Linked DNA regions of Homo sapiens. Changing the gene in region 1 together with any one later gene gives a genetic interaction. Each region holds a gene or a part of one and is shown in the gene's direction. Other genes may lie near its edges.

Region 1 (3,655 bases):
GTCCAATAGAAATGTAATGCAAGCTGCAGATGCCATTCAACATCTACTAACCACATTGAACAAAGTAAAAAGAAACAGCTGAAATTGCTTTCAAGAATGTATTTGATCCAATATATCCAAAATATTATTTCAACCTGTAATAGTTTTAAGTTACTTAGTGTTCTTTTTTTTGTATGATACAAAGTCTTCAAAATTCAGTGTGGGTTTTTTTTTTTTGCTTTTTTTTTTGTTTGTTTGTTTTGTTTGTTTGAGACTGAGTCTCGCACTCTGTCGCCCACGCTGGAGTGCAGTGGTGCAATCTTGGCTCACTGCAACCTCTGCCTCCCAGTTTCAAGCGATTCTCATGCCTCACCCTCCCTAGTACTGGCATTACAGGCGTGCACCACCACACCCAGCTAATTTTTGTGTTTTTAGTAAAGATGGGGTTTTCCCATGTTGCCCAGGCTGGTCTCGAACTCCTGGGCTCAAGCGATCCACCCACCTTGGCCTCCCAAAATGCTGGGATTACAGGCATGAGCCACCGTGCCCAGCCTCAGTGTGTATTATATTTTAAGCATATCTCAATTCAGATTGGCCACATTTCAAGTTTTCAGTAGCTGTATGTGGCTCGTAATAACCGTATTGGATAGTTCATCTCTAGAACATCTAGAGAATGTGTGCCCATGATGTTGAGAAATGAGTTCCCTTGTGTCTGGTGTTTGATATTAAGTTATGGACGTTAAGAATGCCTGAATCTATTGCTGGCCAAGTAAGCCACTAACCTAGGTCATAAAGAGTTAGCTTTGGGACCATTTATTTCCATGATCAAAATAAATACATCTGGGTTTAACCTGAATCACCATTTAGTAACATAGTCATCAGTTTCAGTACCTTTGTCTTTTTCCAGGTAAAACTCTTTAGCCTCTTATCAAACATGTTATGCCACATCTAAATTCCATATTTTATGTAATATAAGGAAAAATAGTTTTATTTGTATGATTTATACTTCATGTGTTAGGAACCTGTGACTACATGTTCTGAACTGTTAGTAAGAAAAATGGTATTGGATACCTTACTCTTTAAGATTTTTAATTATTTTTGGTAAAACTGGGAAATAGCCGTCTGATTTGCATTTTATTTTCTTTTGTATTTTAAGGATATGGAATATTATCTTGTAAAATGGAAAGGATGGCCAGATTCTACAAATACTTGGGAACCTTTGCAAAATCTGAAGTGCCCGTTACTGCTTCAGCAATTCTCTAATGACAAGCATAATTATTTATCTCAGGTAAAGAAAGGCAAAGCAATAACTCCAAAAGACAATAACAAAACTTTGAAACCTGCCATTGCTGAGTACATTGTGAAGAAGGCTAAACAAAGGATAGCTCTGCAGAGATGGCAAGATGAACTCAACAGAAGAAAGAATCATAAAGGAATGATATTTGTTGAAAATACTGTTGATTTAGAGGGCCCACCTTCAGACTTCTATTACATTAACGAATACAAACCAGCTCCTGGAATCAGCTTAGTCAATGAAGCTACCTTTGGTTGTTCATGCACAGATTGCTTCTTTCAAAAATGTTGTCCTGCTGAAGCTGGAGTTCTTTTGGCTTATAATAAAAACCAACAAATTAAAATCCCACCTGGTACTCCCATCTATGAATGCAACTCAAGGTGTCAGTGTGGTCCTGATTGTCCCAATAGGATTGTACAAAAAGGCACACAGTATTCGCTTTGCATCTTTCGAACTAGCAATGGACGTGGCTGGGGTGTAAAGACCCTTGTGAAGATTAAAAGAATGAGTTTTGTCATGGAATATGTTGGAGAGGTATGTTTCATTTGCCACGTAGTAAATGATGGACATGCAAGGTTTATACTTTTGGAAAATTACCTTTTTATCTCTTTAAGAGATACTTGGTACATTTTGATATTTTCATTTGCAGATATGTAGAAATTTATTCAGATTTAGGAGAAGAGTTCACTGGCATATTTAGAAATAAAAAACTTTTATATGAATAAAAAATATACGTTAAAACAAATTGATATAGTCATCTTTCAACAAATACACATTCCTACTAGTCAAACCTAGGATTTGTAAAATTTAAAATATGACAACTGTTTTTACCCAAAAGTCCTAAGAAGAAACTCAGATGTAACACATGCTGCTTTGAAACTTGAAAGTTTTAATTTACTTCATCTATTTGACCAAATATGATTAAATGTAGTTGGCAGAACTCTATTTTGGATCAACATGAAAGATACTATATTTATGAGTTTTGTAAAATATACACAAGCATTTATTGCATCCATAATCTGTAACTTACTTTTGAACTGTGAAGACCATTCTCAAAACTACCATACAAATACTAGCAAATTTATTTGTATACAAATCATATATATGTATATATATATATAAATGTAAAAAGTATTTGCCGTGTGTCACATACTATTCTAAGCACTTGATGTATTAATTCACTAATCCTCTCCAAAACTCAGTGAGGTAGTACTGTTTCTTTTTTTTTTTTTTTTTTTTTTTTTTTTGAGAAGTAGTACTGTTATGTCCATTATTGTAGAGAAATTGAGTACCTTGCCCAAGGTCACACAGGTCACATAGTAATAAGAACCGAGATTCAAAGCTCTAAAATCAGTAGTCTTCACCATGGCACCACACTGCTTCAAACTGAAGGGTAGGTTGAGCTGTGACTAGAAAGACACAAGCATGGCTACATATCTGGAGTTGTCAACTCTGGATTTTTTAGTTGGAATTGGGTCACCTATAATTATCTGTATTCATCTATAATTCTGAAACTAAATTAGATGGCTGTTTTGATTCTTACACTTTTAGACAGTGGTAGATTATTATAAATTATTCAGTATACAAGATCTTGTATAATCAAATTACTCTTTTTGTTAACCAAAATTTTTTAAGTTGCATTCTTAATGAGTGCAGCAGCCAAATTTGGTTGGTAACATAAAGTACTTTAGACACTTTTGGTTTCTTAAGCCGAGCGTGTCATAAAACTTGTGTTCTTAAGAGCAGAACTGTAGATGACGATCTTAGACTTACAGAATTGCATGAAAATAACATATTCTACAAAAACAAAACCTTCCATTCCAAAGTTAACATAGCTTCTCCCCTGTATTTTTAACAATTTTCCATTTGTAACTGCATATATATAAGTTATAGGAAAAATGTGCCTGGATCATATTTAGAGCATATACTTGCAGATTTAGTCCTTAACATTCAGTTGTGTCCTGTAGAGAGCTATAGTTGTATAGCTTTTTGAACATCCTAATTATAATGAAAGTAATGCAGTGTTCCAATGTACTGCTCAAATCCTGTTTAAAAAGTCATAAATCAACCAGTTACAGTTAATCCCAGCACTTGGGGAGGTCAAGGCTGGAGGCTCACTTGAGCCCAGGAGTTCCAGACCAGTGTGGGCAACATAGTGAGACCCCACATCTCTATAAAAACTAAATCATTAGCTGGGCATGGCGGTATGCACCTGTGATCCAGCTAGTCAGGAGGCTGAGGCAGGAAGATCGCTTGATCCCAGGAGTTAAAGGATACAGGGAGTCATGATGGCACCACCGCATTCTAGCCTGAGTGACAGAGTGAGACCCTGTTTAAAAAAAAAAGGTCATCAGTCTTTTGCATTATCATTTTTCTTCCCCT
Region 2 (2,466 bases), on another chromosome or scaffold:
GGGCCCCTTCTGCAGGCCCGGCCTCTCTAGTGGTCCCTGTGCTTTCGCCTCAGTCCTAGGATTGGCTGGGCTCCCTCCACAGGCTCCGCCTCCTACGTGGCTGCTGCACTTCGCCCCAGTCCTAGGATTGGCTGGGCTCCCTCCACAGGCTCCGCCTCCTACGTGGCCGCTGCACTTCGCCCCAGTCCTAGGATTGGCTGGGCTCCCTCCACAGGCTCCGCCTCCTACGTGGCCGCTGCACTTCGCCCCAGTCCTAGGATTGGCTGGGCTCCCTCCGCAGAACCCCCCAACCCCACGTGGCCCCTGTGCCTTCCCTCCAGTCCTAGGATTGGCCAGGCTCCCTCCACAGGCCCCACCTCCTACATGGCCTGTGTGCCTTCATTCCAGTCCTAGGATTGGCTGGGCTCCCTCCTCAGGCCCCGCTTCCCACGTGGCCTCTGCACCTCGCTCCCGTCCTAGAATTGGCTGGGCTCCCTCCACAGGCCCCGCCTTCCACGTGGCCTCTGCACCTCGCTCCCGTCCTAGAATTGGCTGGGCTCCCTCCACAGGCCCCGCCTCCCACGTGGCCACTGCACTTTGCTCCCATCCTAGGATTGGCTGGTCTCCCTCAGGCCCCGCCTCCCACGCGGCCTCTGCACCTCGCTCCAGTCCTAGGATTGGCTGGGCTCCCTCCGCAGGCCCTCCCCCCACCCACCCATGTGGCCCCTGTGCCTTCTCTCCAGTCCTAGGATTGGCTGGGCTCTCTCCGCAGGCCCCGCCTCCCACGTTGCCTATCTGCCTTACTCCAGCCGTCCTTCTCTGGACTGTTGTCTTTATCTGGTTCTGGTCGGGCAGAGATTTGTGTCACAGACTTTGACACCCCACCCATCTTAGAAGCTCGGAGCAGCGCTGTGTGCTCTGCCAGACGAGCTGCCCCTGGTGAAAGCTGGGCCTGGCCCCTCCAGTCGGAAGCCCCTCACTCTCCATTTTGCTGCTTATCAAGACCTTCGTGTGTGCGCCGTTGCTAGTTCCGGAATTGCATTCTGCACGAGGAGGGGTCGCCTATAGATTCTTAGTCCATCAGACCCCGAAGCAGAGGCCAAAGTCCACGCCAGGTGAGCCACTCTGAACTCTGTTTCTTTGGGGTAAACCAGGAGGCAGCTTCCCGCGCCTTTGGCTTTGGGGGCTGTGGCTGGTCCTGTCCTGCGGCCGTGCTCGCCTGGTTTACTGTCTTGTCACTGCCCGCGCCGTGAAGGTTGACGGAGAGCTGCTCTCGTCCACGCCTTTACCCGCTTGTTGGTTTGGGTTTTAACCTCTTGACCTCTGAGCGTCCCTGGCTCTCTGGTTAATGTTCATGCTGGGGCAGGTTGTGGACCAGGTGTCTCTGCCGGCAGGCCCCGCCCTCTCGGAACTCGGTCCTGGAAAGCCCCAGGTGCCTCCTTCCCCGTCTGCCTGGCTGTCGTCTGTGGTGTTGCCTCTTCCCGTCGCTGGGTAACAAACCACGCCACCCACCCGCAGCTCGCCATGGCGGCCACCCACTCGGCCCAGTGTGCGCAGCAGGGGTTGGGCGTGCCGGGCCTCGGGCTGCACAGGCAGGGTGCTGCTGAGCCCAGGTCCCTGTGGTTGCGTGGGCAGCGTCTAGGTTCCTTGCTAGCTGCCGGCCGGGACCACCTACCTTACTCCCACGCAGCTCCTCCATCCAGGCCCCAGCAGCTCCAAGCCCTGGGTCTCCAGAGAGAATTGCTTTTAAAGGGGTTGCGTGGTTAGGTCAGGCCCACCCACCTCGTCCCCCTCTCTATGGTCAATTCAGAATCCATCATCACAGGCCAGTGCCAGGGGCCAGGGCCCAGGGCCATGTGGCCACCCGGAATCCTGGGCTCCTCTCCAAGGCACCAGGGTGAGGAGGACGCCTCAGTCTCTTCGGCCTCGTGTTCCACAGTCACATCAGCACCCGGAAGGGCTGCAGCAGAAGTCGTTTTCTGTGGGCAGCCTCCGCCTGACGGTCCTCCCTGGTGCCATTCGCCACTGAGTCTTCCCAGACCCTCTGGGGACTGCTCCGCCTCCTCGTCACCAAGACAGTGTGTCCCGGATGCCAGCTCCATCCCTCCCGACCCCCTCAGCCCCTGCCACTGCCTCACGGGGCTCTTGCAGCCCCGGCCTCCTTTCTCCTATTGGTGCCAGACAGCCCCATGGGTCCTCGGGTGGGATGGCGCTGTCCACATTCCACCGCGCTGGAAGCCCCATGGGGACGCCGTCAAGGGAACGGCCCGCACCACCCCCACCCCACCACAGACGGAGGCCCAGCGAGGACGGCAGGGTGCGGGGTGGGTGGCCACACAGCGAGGAGAAGGCTGGCGGAGGCTCCGCACCGCCGCCACAGGTCACTGGAGAAGGCCCCTCCTGCATGGCGGGCCTGCGCCCAACTGCAGGCTCCGGGACTGCCATGCATGGCCGTACCCGGCGAGGCCGGCGTGTCGGGGCCTTGCT

The links.
Region 2: changes in SUV39H2 (region 1) and EHMT1 together harm fitness more than expected from each alone (negative genetic interaction), as found in Homo sapiens cells (one large-scale study listed by BioGRID).

Annotation. Positions count from the first base shown.
Region 1 is NC_000010.11:14,895,711-14,899,365, forward strand, and holds part of SUV39H2 (histone-lysine N-methyltransferase SUV39H2), read left to right. Parts: intron 1-1,135; coding exon 1,136-1,807; exon of another isoform or gene 1,808-3,539; coding exon of another isoform or gene 3,540-3,602; intron 3,603-3,655. UniProt on the Homo sapiens protein: Histone methyltransferase that specifically trimethylates 'Lys-9' of histone H3 using monomethylated H3 'Lys-9' as substrate.
Region 2 is NC_000009.12:137,831,850-137,834,315, forward strand, and holds part of EHMT1 (histone-lysine N-methyltransferase EHMT1), read left to right. Parts: intron 1-2,466. UniProt on the Homo sapiens protein: Histone methyltransferase that specifically mono- and dimethylates 'Lys-9' of histone H3 (H3K9me1 and H3K9me2, respectively) in euchromatin.